Homo sapiens: one gene and its partner. The protein of the gene in region 2 purifies or fractionates together with the protein of the main gene of each other region. This does not show direct contact. Each region holds a gene or a part of one and is shown on either strand. Other genes may lie near its edges.

Evidence for each region. The genes of interacting proteins can lie anywhere in the genome.
Region 1: the proteins of PLEKHG2 (region 2) and FHL1 purify together in Homo sapiens (affinity purification with western blotting; 2 studies listed by BioGRID). This does not show direct contact.

The regions. Positions count from the first base shown.
Region 1 is NC_000023.11:136,207,015-136,211,854, forward strand, and holds the end of FHL1 (four and a half LIM domains protein 1), read left to right. Parts: intron 1-1; coding exon 2-176; intron 177-777; coding exon 778-947; intron 948-1,440; coding exon 1,441-1,627; intron 1,628-2,228; coding exon of another isoform or gene 2,229-2,428; intron 2,429-2,856; coding exon 2,857-3,011; 3' UTR 3,012-4,340; downstream 4,341-4,840.
Region 2 is NC_000019.10:39,415,650-39,422,681, forward strand, and holds part of PLEKHG2 (pleckstrin homology domain-containing family G member 2), read left to right. Parts: intron 1-698; coding exon 699-765; intron 766-901; coding exon 902-948; intron 949-1,200; coding exon 1,201-1,351; intron 1,352-1,905; coding exon 1,906-2,043; intron 2,044-2,255; coding exon 2,256-2,456; intron 2,457-3,084; coding exon 3,085-3,177; intron 3,178-3,267; coding exon 3,268-3,354; intron 3,355-4,976; coding exon 4,977-5,010; intron 5,011-5,101; coding exon 5,102-5,203; intron 5,204-5,299; coding exon 5,300-5,347; intron 5,348-5,425; coding exon 5,426-5,464; intron 5,465-5,633; coding exon 5,634-5,650; intron 5,651-6,465; coding exon 6,466-6,639; intron 6,640-7,032. UniProt on the Homo sapiens protein: May be a transforming oncogene with exchange activity for CDC42. May be a guanine-nucleotide exchange factor (GEF) for RAC1 and CDC42. Activated by the binding to subunits beta and gamma of the heterotrimeric guanine nucleotide-binding protein (G protein).

The sequences.
Region 1 (4,840 bases), on a different chromosome or scaffold from region 2:
GGAGGTGCACTATAAGAACCGCTTCTGGCATGACACCTGCTTCCGCTGTGCCAAGTGCCTTCACCCCTTGGCCAATGAGACCTTTGTGGCCAAGGACAACAAGATCCTGTGCAACAAGTGCACCACTCGGGAGGACTCCCCCAAGTGCAAGGGGTGCTTCAAGGCCATTGTGGCAGGTACTGCCTCCTTCCCACCCCGGGTTCCCAGGGAGGAGGCCCTGAGGGCAGACGTGATGTGGGCTTGCTTATCATGGTGGGGCTAACGTTGCTCTGAGCTGCTTTGAGATCTTAGCATATATATGTACACATATACATACACGTATATATGCGTACACATATATGCTCGCACACACGCACACACTCGGAGACTAAAGAACACTGGCGAGAACAGCCTGTGGCAACAGAATGAAGTGAACAGTATGTAGCGCTTTCTCATTTGGGCGTAGTAAGTGATGAAAGCATGCTTCTTCCTCAGGGTGTCATTCTGGGCCAGGCAGTCCCTGATTTAATGTCTAAGTGCACGCAGGGTATAGAGGTGGGGGAGTGGGGGATTCAGGCACTGGATCCTAAAATAATAATGCTGGGGTCCCCACCCATGACAGAAATCCTGGGTTGGCACAAGCACAAGTAGAACACAGGTAGGTTAGTTGGAGGTGTGAGGCCAGTAACTGCAGGGCCTGCATCCCCTCACCTCTGGAGGGCCTGGGGAGGGGAGCTGAGTGGATGCAGCCCCCTGCAGAGCCTGTCAGTGGGGCTATCCAATTGCTTCCCTCTGCAGGAGATCAAAACGTGGAGTACAAGGGGACCGTCTGGCACAAAGACTGCTTCACCTGTAGTAACTGCAAGCAAGTCATCGGGACTGGAAGCTTCTTCCCTAAAGGGGAGGACTTCTACTGCGTGACTTGCCATGAGACCAAGTTTGCCAAGCATTGCGTGAAGTGCAACAAGGTATGCTTTCAAGGGAGTTCTGCATTGACCGTTGTTTCTAGAAGTGTTTGACAGTTTGCAGAGCACTTCCACACACACTATCCCATTCCATCCTCACGACAGCCCTGTGACGTAGGAATTATTATTCCCGTTTTACAGATGAGGAGATCGTGGATTAGGAAGCAGTGCCACAGCCAAGTCAGGCTGTCAGTACGCATCCTCAGCCTGGTGGTGCGGGTGGCCCGTATGGCATGCTGAGCTGGGCAGCCCTGGCTCTAGAAGCCTGCCTCCACCACTTAGGGGCTGTGTAACCTCACATAGGGGCTCACCTTCTCCGAGCCTTGGTGTCTTCATCTGTAAAGTGGGGATAATAATAGCCCCTGCCTCCCATGGCTGTTGTGGAGATTAAATGAGATATTGTATACCAAAGCGCCCAGCACAGTGCCTGGCACGCAGTAGGCATTCAACAAAATGGTTGTTGAATCTGAATCCGGTGCTACACTCCCTGGTCTAGGCCATCACATCTGGAGGAATCACTTACCAGGATCAGCCCTGGCATGCCGATTGCTTTGTGTGTGTTACCTGCTCTAAGAAGCTGGCTGGGCAGCGTTTCACCGCTGTGGAGGACCAGTATTACTGCGTGGATTGCTACAAGAACTTTGTGGCCAAGAAGTGTGCTGGATGCAAGAACCCCATCACTGGTAGGCTAAAGAGTCCTTGCTAAGTCTGCCAGGCTAGGTTTTGCGCATGGTAACCATCTCTCATTTTCCTGTCGTCGGTTTCATCCACAAAGGCCCCCAGAGAATGCCCTTCTCCCCCTGCTATTGTGGTCCCAAAGGCCCCCCAAGAGTTTGGATTCGTCCCCAGGCCAGGTTAGCCTTTGCAATACAGAACACTTCCTGACTGTTGACTAACAATGCTGAGAGTTCACAAGCCTGAGACCTGCCAGCCAACACCGGCAGGCACTGCCACTTTGCAGGGGGATTCTGGGGGGAGGGGTGGGAGGAGGGTAGAAAGAAGGGGGTGGGGGAGGGTGGGGAAGGGGTAAGGGAGGCCGAAGAGTGATAACCCGGGATTGTAATACCCCATAGCTGAAGGCTAGTTCAGAGATGCCTGTTGGCAGGGTTTCTTTTTTTTTTGGTTTGCTGTTTATTTGTTTTTGCGATCAGCAAAGCTAATCACTTCATTCCTCATCTCGCGGCCGCGATCCACGTGCCCTGGGCCCTTTCCCTTGCCTCCAATTTTCCCATCTTCCCGGGGAGCCTTGAAATGTACATTTGAGAAGACTTTTGCCATCCTCAGGGAAAAGGACTGTGTCAAGAGTGAGCCACCCAGTCTCTAAAGCTAGGAAGCCCCCAGTGTGCCACGGGAAACGCTTGCCTCTCACCCTGTTTCCCAGCGCCAACCTCCGGGGCAGGCATCCGGGTGGAGAGAGGACTTGTCCCTCGTGGGTGGTGGTTCTTTATAGAAAAAATCGAAGCTTAGCAGCTCCTCGAGGCCCGGTAAGTGCACACCCCACGAACAGCCCAAGTTTGCCTCCTGGTGGCCACTTTGATGTCATGGCCCTGACCTAAATCAAAGAAACTGGTTATGCTGGGAGGTCGGTGCGCGTCACAGGGCAATAGCGTGGTGGCATGGGAACGTGGGGTCTTTACATCAGGGAAGCCCTTGGCCGGGCTTCAGCATCTTCTCAGGTCCTTGAGAGCCACAGCAGGGTTGCGGCGGCATGGGGGACAATGGCGGCGTGGGGGACTGTGCACGATGGAGTGGAGGAGGGGGTCTGGGAGCCAGGCAGACCTGGCTCTTGCGTGCTTGTCGGTCTGTGAGTGGGGCAGGTCGTCATTTTATCTCTCTGAATCGTGGTTTCCTCACCTGTATTCATTCAGCTGTTTCTCTTGTTTTCTTTTCTTTTCTTTTTTTTTCCCCCCAGGGTTTGGTAAAGGCTCCAGTGTGGTGGCCTATGAAGGACAATCCTGGCACGACTACTGCTTCCACTGCAAAAAATGCTCCGTGAATCTGGCCAACAAGCGCTTTGTTTTCCACCAGGAGCAAGTGTATTGTCCCGACTGTGCCAAAAAGCTGTAAACTGACAGGGGCTCCTGTCCTGTAAAATGGCATTTGAATCTCGTTCTTTGTGTCCTTACTTTCTGCCCTATACCATCAATAGGGGAAGAGTGGTCCTTCCCTTCTTTAAAGTTCTCCTTCCGTCTTTTCTCCCATTTTACAGTATTACTCAAATAAGGGCACACAGTGATCATATTAGCATTTAGCAAAAAGCAACCCTGCAGCAAAGTGAATTTCTGTCCGGCTGCAATTTAAAAATGAAAACTTAGGTAGATTGACTCTTCTGCATGTTTCTCATAGAGCAGAAAAGTGCTAATCATTTAGCCACTTAGTGATGTAAGCAAGAAGCATAGGAGATAAAACCCCCACTGAGATGCCTCTCATGCCTCAGCTGGGACCCACCGTGTAGACACACGACATGCAAGAGTTGCAGCGGCTGCTCCAACTCACTGCTCACCCTCTTCTGTGAGCAGGAAAAGAACCCTACTGACATGCATGGTTTAACTTCCTCATCAGAACTCTGCCCTTCCTTCTGTTCTTTTGTGCTTTCAAATAACTAACACGAACTTCCAGAAAATTAACATTTGAACTTAGCTGTAATTCTAAACTGACCTTTCCCCGTACTAACGTTTGGTTTCCCCGTGTGGCATGTTTTCTGAGCGTTCCTACTTTAAAGCATGGAACATGCAGGTGATTTGGGAAGTGTAGAAAGACCTGAGAAAACGAGCCTGTTTCAGAGGAACATCGTCACAACGAATACTTCTGGAAGCTTAACAAAACTAACCCTGCTGTCCTTTTTATTGTTTTTAATTAATATTTTTGTTTTAATTGATAGCAAAATAGTTTATGGGTTTGGAAACTTGCATGAAAATATTTTAGCCCCCTCAGATGTTCCTGCAGTGCTGAAATTCATCCTACGGAAGTAACCGCAAAACTCTAGAGGGGGAGTTGAGCAGGCGCCAGGGCTGTCATCAACATGGATATGACATTTCACAACAGTGACTAGTTGAATCCCTTGTAACGTAGTAGTTGTCTGCTCTTTGTCCATGTGTTAATGAGGACTGCAAAGTCCCTTCTGTTGTGATTCCTAGGACTTTTCCTCAAGAGGAAATCTGGATTTCCACCTACCGCTTACCTGAAATGCAGGATCACCTACTTACTGTATTCTACATTATTATATGACATAGTATAATGAGACAATATCAAAAGTAAACATGTAATGACAATACATACTAACATTCTTGTAGGAGTGGTTAGAGAAGCTGATGCCTCATTTCTACATTCTGTCATTAGCTATTATCATCTAACGTTTCAGTGTATCCTTACAGAAATAAAGCAGCATATGAATAACCTGCCTCCTGTCTTTTCATTCTGCCTGGTGGAATCGCTATAAGGTGATACTCCTAATCCAGAAACCTAAATGACTTATTTTCCTTCCAGGATATACTCACTTTAGTGCAGGCGCACAGAACATAGGAATTATAAACAAACCTGTAAAAACCACACTTGATTGATAAATAAATAATTAAAAACAAACAGAAACCACTCTGACCTAAAATAGTATTTCCCAGATTTTCACATCCCTGAAAAAGAAAGAAAACGATGAATTGGTTTGATTTGGCCAGGGGATTAGGGAGGGAATCCCTGATGAAGCATGGCACTGAGAAGCCATCTTGGTCCCTGTTTGTTGGGTGCTTCCTCGGTGTGCCTTTCCCCTTGTGCCCTCTGGAGCCTGGGGTCCAGGTTGAACGTGACCATCTCAACTGCGGCTGCCTCCACCTGCCAGCTGAATGACACCCTCGCTCCTTCTTGTGGATGTGGCTCACTAAGGAAGCTGCCCATTTGGGCCC
Region 2 (7,032 bases):
GGATGGGAGGACCCCGAGTGAGGGAGGGGCATAGCGGATGGGAGGACCCCGAGTGAGGGAGGGGCATAGCGGATGGGAGTCAGAGGACCTGGATGAAGCCCAAACACTGGGACAGGGTCCCGGCATCAGGACGAGTCCTTGGGGCTGTGTCAGGTCTGGGCTCACGATGAATCCAAGAATCATATGGGGCCTGAAGGCCGAGACAGCGTGAGCATGCGAGTGACCCCCTAAGCCTGATTTGCCTGGGACTTTTCCAGTTTTAGCACTGAAAGCCCTCGTCCTAGGAAACTGCTCAGTCCCGGACAAACCAGGATGGTTGGTCACTGTGGTAAGGAGGACTCTGGGGTCCAAGGATCATGACATTTCCAAGTACCTTGACGAGGTCTCGGGATTACAGCAGGAACTTAAGATCATCCTAGCTCTTTGGGTCATGATATAACACCCCTAGGCTCATGCCAGCACTGACACAAGTTCAAGCTGAGGAATGAGAAGCTGTCCAGGGACAAAGTCTAAGCAGGTTACCATGCCCCGTGTAGCCCTCAGAGGACCCTTCCTCCGGACATGACATCCCCTTAGGAGATGCTGGCAGTCAGCAAGCCCCCAGCCCCAGCAGACCATTGGGGCCTCAGCCTCCTGGAGGCCTCCCATGGAGGGGTCGTGAAGGCAGGCGGTTCCTCACCCTCCCCTCTCCCCTGTAGCGAGCTCCTGGAGGACTTGGAGAACAGCAGCAGCGCCGGGGGTATTGCCGAGTGCTTCGTGCAGAGGGTGAGTGGAGGGGTGGGGGGCTCTCGGTCCTGGATGGGGCCTTTGTAGAGGGGGGAGAGCAGGCTTGGGCTAGGCTGGAAGGGGGGTCGTGGGAAGCCAGGACCTGGGGTCTCCCTGACTCCCATGTCACCCGCAGAGCGAGGATTTTGACATCTACACATTGTACTGCATGAACTACCCGAGGTGAGGGGCAGGAGCCCCTGCTGGGCCTCAGGCTGTGCCCACAAGCTGATGTGCCAGTCACCCGTCACCCTCCCTCTACCCCCGACCCATCCAGCACCGACCCCTGCCAGGCTGTGACAGTAACTGACCTCTCCCTCACTGCCCCGCCCCCTGTCAGACCCTGACCCTTCCCAAACCCTGGCCCCTCCCTAACCCCTCTTGACCCCGCCCACTGGAACTGACAATCCCCACTGACCTGTGCTGTGCCCCCAGCTCCCTGGCCCTGCTCCGGGAGCTGTCGTTGTCTCCGCCAGCAGCCCTGTGGCTGCAGGAGCGCCAGGCCCAGCTTCGCCACTCGCTGCCCCTGCAGAGCTTCCTGCTGAAACCTGTCCAGCGCATTCTCAAGTACCATCTGCTGCTGCAGGTCAGCTGGGGCCCCTGGAGCCAGGCTGGGGAGGGGGAGGTCCTGTCCCTTGACCACCTGTTGGTTCATCTGGAGGATGGACCCCCCACGAGTTGGGCAAGGCCTCCCAAAGTGCTGGGATTACAGGCGTGAGCCACCGCGCACAGCCCTAGCTTTTTTTTTTCCCTTTGAGGTGGAGTTTCACTCTTGTCGATGAGGCTGGAGTACAGTGGTGCGATCTTGGCTCACTGCAACCTCCACCTCCTGGGTTCAAGTGATTCTCCTTGCTCAGCCTCCTGAGTAGCTAGGATTACAGGCGCACACCACCATGCCCAGCTAATTTTTGTATTTTTAATAGGGACGGGGTTTCACTACGTTGGCCGGGCTAGTCTCGAACTCCTGGCCTCAGGTGATTTGCCCACCTCAGCCTCCCAAAGTGCTGGGATTACAGACATGAGCCACTGCGCCTGGCCTCTGCCCCTATCTTTATATTTCTCCATCTCCTGTTATTCTCATTCTCTTTCTCCTTCTCTGTTTCTCTCCCCATCCCTGCGTGCCTGGTGGCTGCCTGACAGGAACTAGGGAAGCACTGGGCGGAGGGCCCAGGCACTGGGGGTCGCGAGATGGTGGAGGAAGCTATTGTGTCCATGACAGCGGTTGCCTGGTACATCAACGACATGAAGCGCAAGCAGGAGCATGCAGCGCGCCTCCAGGTGGCCCCAGGGTGGGCTGGGGCTTGCTGGATGAGGGAGTGAGCGAGGGGGCCTTGGGGCGGGTGGGGGGAAATCAGTGCCTCAGAGGTAGCCTTGGAGGGTTGGCTGGGACAGCATGGCCCTGTTGCTAACCCCCTGTTTTGGTGTGTATGTGTGTGCCACCTACCCATGCTTGTCTCTGCGCCCCGGCGCACCTGGCGGGGTCCCGGCAGGAAGTGCAGCGGCGGCTGGGTGGCTGGACCGGACCAGAGCTCAGTGCTTTTGGGGAACTGGTGTTGGAGGGCGCGTTCCGAGGAGGCGGAGGGGGTGGCCCCCGGCTACGAGGGGGTGAGCGGCTGCTCTTCCTGTTCTCTCGGATGCTGCTGGTGGCCAAGCGCAGGGGGCTGGAGTACACCTACAAAGGCCACATCTTCGTGAGTTTGGGGATGGGGTGGGGCTAGAATACTACCTACAAAGTATATCCCATATACCTGTATCTGTGTGCCCGGCAGTGTGGGCCAGGGGACCCTGCCACATTTTCTTGAGTTAGAGAATGGAAGCCAAGGGAAGCTTTCTTTCTAGTGTATAGAATGAGAGCTGCCCCACTTAAGAAAAAAAAGGAGAAGGCTGGGCGTGGTGGCTCATTCCTGTAATCCGAGCACTTTGGGAGGTCAAGGCGGGCGGATCACTTGAGGTCAGGAGTTCGAGACCAGCCTAGCCAACGTGGTGAAACCCCGTCTCTACTAAAAATACAAAAATTAGCTGGACGTGGTGGCAAGTGCCTGTAATCCCAGCTACTGGGGAGGCTGAGGCAGGAGAATTACTTGAACCCAGGAGGCGGAGGTTGCAATAAGCCAAGATCATGCCACTGCACTCCAGCCTGGGTGACAGAGCAAGACTCTGTCTCAAAAAAAAAAAAGGGAGAGGAAACCCACCATACAGCCTTATGGGATGCATCTTCCTAGGGAGGAGGACCCAGATACACCTCCAAGGGTGTCTCCGTACAAGGGGCATCACTGAGCCCAAGGACTCTGAGCTTGCTACCCCTCTCTTTCCTTCCAGTGCTGCAACCTGAGCGTGAGCGAGAGTCCCCGAGACCCTCTAGGGTTCAAGGTGTCTGATCTGACCATTCCCAAGCACAGACACCTGCTCCAGGTGAGCATGTAGTGGGATCAGGCTGGCAGGGATCCCCCAGCCTCGAGACCTCACACCTGGCCCCCTGACTCTACTCCAACCCACTCCTAGGCCAAGAACCAAGAAGAGAAGAGGCTGTGGATTCACTGTCTCCAGCGCCTCTTCTTTGAGAACCACCCTGCCTCCATCCCTGCCAAGGTACAGCTCCTGCCGCAGCCGGGGGCCCTCTGAGTGCTGGAGACACCCTCCCCCAATAGTACTAAGAGACGCCCCTGCCCAATGCCAGAGCAGTCTGTTATAATGTGATTGCTAAAAGTGCAGAATTCCGCTACTTGGGTTTGAATCTTAGCTCTACCATGTCCCTGCTTTGTGACCTTGGGCAAGTAACTTAACCTCTCTGAGCCTTAACTTCCTCACCTAGAGGAATGAAAGCGCCTTCATCCTAGGGTTGTGGTGATGAGTAATGGTCACCAGCCACGTCATGGGCTTGACCAATAGAAGCACCCATCAGCTGGCTGTGGTGGCTCATGCCTATAATCCCAGCACTTCGAGGGGGTGATGTGGGAGGATCATTTAAGCCCGGGAGTTCGATACCAGCTTGGGCAACATAGTGAGACCCTGTCTCTAAAAAACATTTTTTAATTAGCTGGGGCTGGCCAGGCACGGTGGCTCACACCTGTAATCCCAACACTTTGGGAGACCAAGGCGGGCGGATCACCTGAGGTCAGGAGTTCAAGAGCAGCCTGACCGACATGGAGAAACCCCATCTCTACTAAAAAATACAAAATTAGGCCGGGCGCGGTGGCTCATGCCTGTAATCCCAGCACTTTGGGAGGCCGAGGCGGGCGGATCACGAGGTCCGGAGATCGAGACCATCCTGGCTAACATGGTGAAACCCCATCTCTACCAAAAATACAAAAAATTAGCCAGGCGTGGTGGCAGGTGCCCGTAGTCCCAGCTACTCGGGAGGCTGAGGCAGGAGAATGGCGTGAACCCAGGAGGCAAGAGCTTGCAGTGAGCCTAGGTTGCGTCACTGCGCTCTCCAGACTGGGCAACAGAGTGAGCCTCTGTCTCAAAAAAAAAAAAGAAAAAGAAAAATTAGCTGGGCATGGTGGCGCATGCCTGTAATCCCAGCTACTAGGGAGGCTGAGGCAGGAGAATCACTTGTACCTGGGAGGCGGAACTTGCGGTGAGCCGAGATCATGCCATTGCACTCCAGCCTGGGCAAGAAGAGCGAAACTCCGTCTCAAAAAAATAAAAATAAAATAGCTGGGCTGGACGTGGTGGTTCACGCCTGTAATCCCAGCACTTCGGGAGGCCAAGGCGGGTGGATCACCTGAGGTTAGGAGTTCAAGACCAGCCTGGTCAACATGGTGAAACCCCGTCTCTACTAAAAACACAAAAATTACCGGGTGTGGTAGCGGGCACCTGTAATCCCAGCAACTCAAGAGGCTGAGGCAGGAGAATCGCTTGAACCCAGGAGGCAGAGGGTGCAGTGAGCCGAAATCGCGCCTTTGCACTCCAACCTCGGCAACAAGAGCAAAATCTCCGTCTCAAAAAAAAAAAAAAATTAGCTGGATGTGATGGTGCACATATGAAATCCCAGCTACTCAGGAGGGTGAGGTGGGAAGATCGCTTGATCCCAGAAGTAGAGGCTGGAGTGAGCTATGATTGCACCACTGTACTCCAACCTGGCGTATAGAGCAAGATCTAAAAACAAAAACAGCACCCATTAATGGGCATGACTACGGTGCTTAAAGTATCCTCTCTGTGGTACTCCAAGATCGACCCACCTCAGCCCTCATCCTCCTGTCTTTCAGGCAAAGCAAGTTCTCCTTGAAAACAGCCTGCATTGTGAGTTGGGGCCTTGGGCTGGGAGGGTGTGGAAGTAGACGAATTACTTCCAAGAAAAAGTTGGCTTTTAGCCCCAAAACTCTCCCCACAGGTGCCCCCAAAAGTAAGCCTGTCCTAGAGCCCCTGACACCCCCACTTGGGTCTCCTCGACCTCGAGATGCTAGAAGTTTTACCCCTGGGCGAAGGAACACAGGTAAAGGCGGTGGATCCCTGAGTCCCAGCCCTCAGCCCCACTTCCCTAGGACCCGGGAGCTGGGCTCACACAGGGCTCTGGCCCTCCCTCCCACAGCTCCATCTCCTGGGCCCTCTGTGATTCGCCGAGGCCGCAGGCAGTCTGGTGAGCACTCACCCCTAAGGGTGATCCAGGCATCGGGGTGGGAGCTGGGCTCCTGACATCACTGTGTCCTCCCCGCAGAGCCGGTGAAGGACCCTTATGTCATGTTCCCACAGAACGGTCAGTGACTGCCCCGGTTCAGCCTGGTCCATCCCTGTCTGTCGCCCGGTGGGATGTCTGGGGCGGGTTGGGGAGGGGTGGTTGCTTCAGCTCATCAGTTATGGGGGAATCACTCTTTTTCCCTTACATCTCACTAATGCTTCTCTCTCTCTCATCTCTCCATCCTTAGCTAAGCCTGGATTCAAGGTAAGAGATATCTCGAGATAGGGTCTGGGCACCTTGACTTCTGGGTCTGATGGAGAAGGGAGCTTGAGTTCCAAAATCCTGGGTCTGAATGAGAAGGGGATTGGGGCCAGACAGAGTAACTCATGCCTGTAATCTCAGTATTTTGGGAGGTCAAGGCAGGAGGATTGCTCGAGCCCAGGAGTTTGAGACCAGTCTGGGCAACATGGCAAAACCCCATCTCTACAAAAAGTACAAAAAAATTAGCCAGGCACACTAGTGCATGCCCATAGTCCCAGCTACTCAGGAGACTGAGGTGGGAGGATTGCTTGAGCCTGGGAGGCAGAGGTTGCAAAATGAGCTGGGACACACCACTGCACTCCAGCATGGGTCACAGTGAGACCCTGTCTCAAATAAATAAATAAAAATTTTAAGAGAAAAATAAAAAAATTTAAAAATTGAGCCAGGTACGGTGGCTCACCTGTAATCCCAGCACTTTGGGAGGCCGAGGTAGGTGGATCATCTGAGATCAGGAATTTGAGACCAGGCTGGCCAACAAGGAGAAACCCCGACTCTACTAAAAATACAAAAATTAGCTGGACATTGTGGCAGGCGCCTGTAATCCCAGCTACTCAGGAGGCTGAGGCAGCAGAATCGCTTGAACCCGGGAGGCGGAGATTGCAGTGAGCAGAGATGGCGCCATTGCACTGCAGGCTGGGCGACAGAGCGAGACTCCATCTCAAAACAAACAAACGCAAAAGAAGGGGATTGGGACTTGGGGTCCTCTATGTGAGGGAGGAGTCTTGGCTCTTGCCTTCCATTGCTTTCCCTCCTCACAGCACGCTGGCAGCGAAGGGGAACTCTACCCTCCAGAATCTCAGCCACCAGTTTCAGGCTCTGCACCCCCTGAGGACCTGGAGGATGCTGGACCCCCAACACTGGACCCCTCTGGGACCTCAATCACTGAAGAAATCCTGGAACTGCTGAATCAGCGAGGCCTTCGAGATCCAGGGGTGAGCTGGCTGTCCCATCATGGTGTCCTTGGGCCTCTGGGTGTGGGCACACAGACCAGGGACCAGATAGGCCAGCCCATGCTGATACCTTTATTTTTTTTTTATTTGAGATGGAGTCTTGCTCTGTTGCCGAGGCTGGAGTGCAGTGGCGCCATCTCGGCTCACTGCAAGCTCTGCCTCCCAGGTTCAAGCGATTCTCCTGCCTCAGCCTCCTGAGTAGCTGGGACTACAGGCACCCGCCAACACACCCGGCTAATTTTTTTTTTTTTTTTGTATTTTTAGTAGAGACAGGGTTTCACTATGTTGGCCAGGCTGGTCTCGAACTCGTAACCTCAAGTGACCCGCCCACTTCAGCCTCCCAAAGTGCTGGGATTACAGGCGTGAGCCACCACA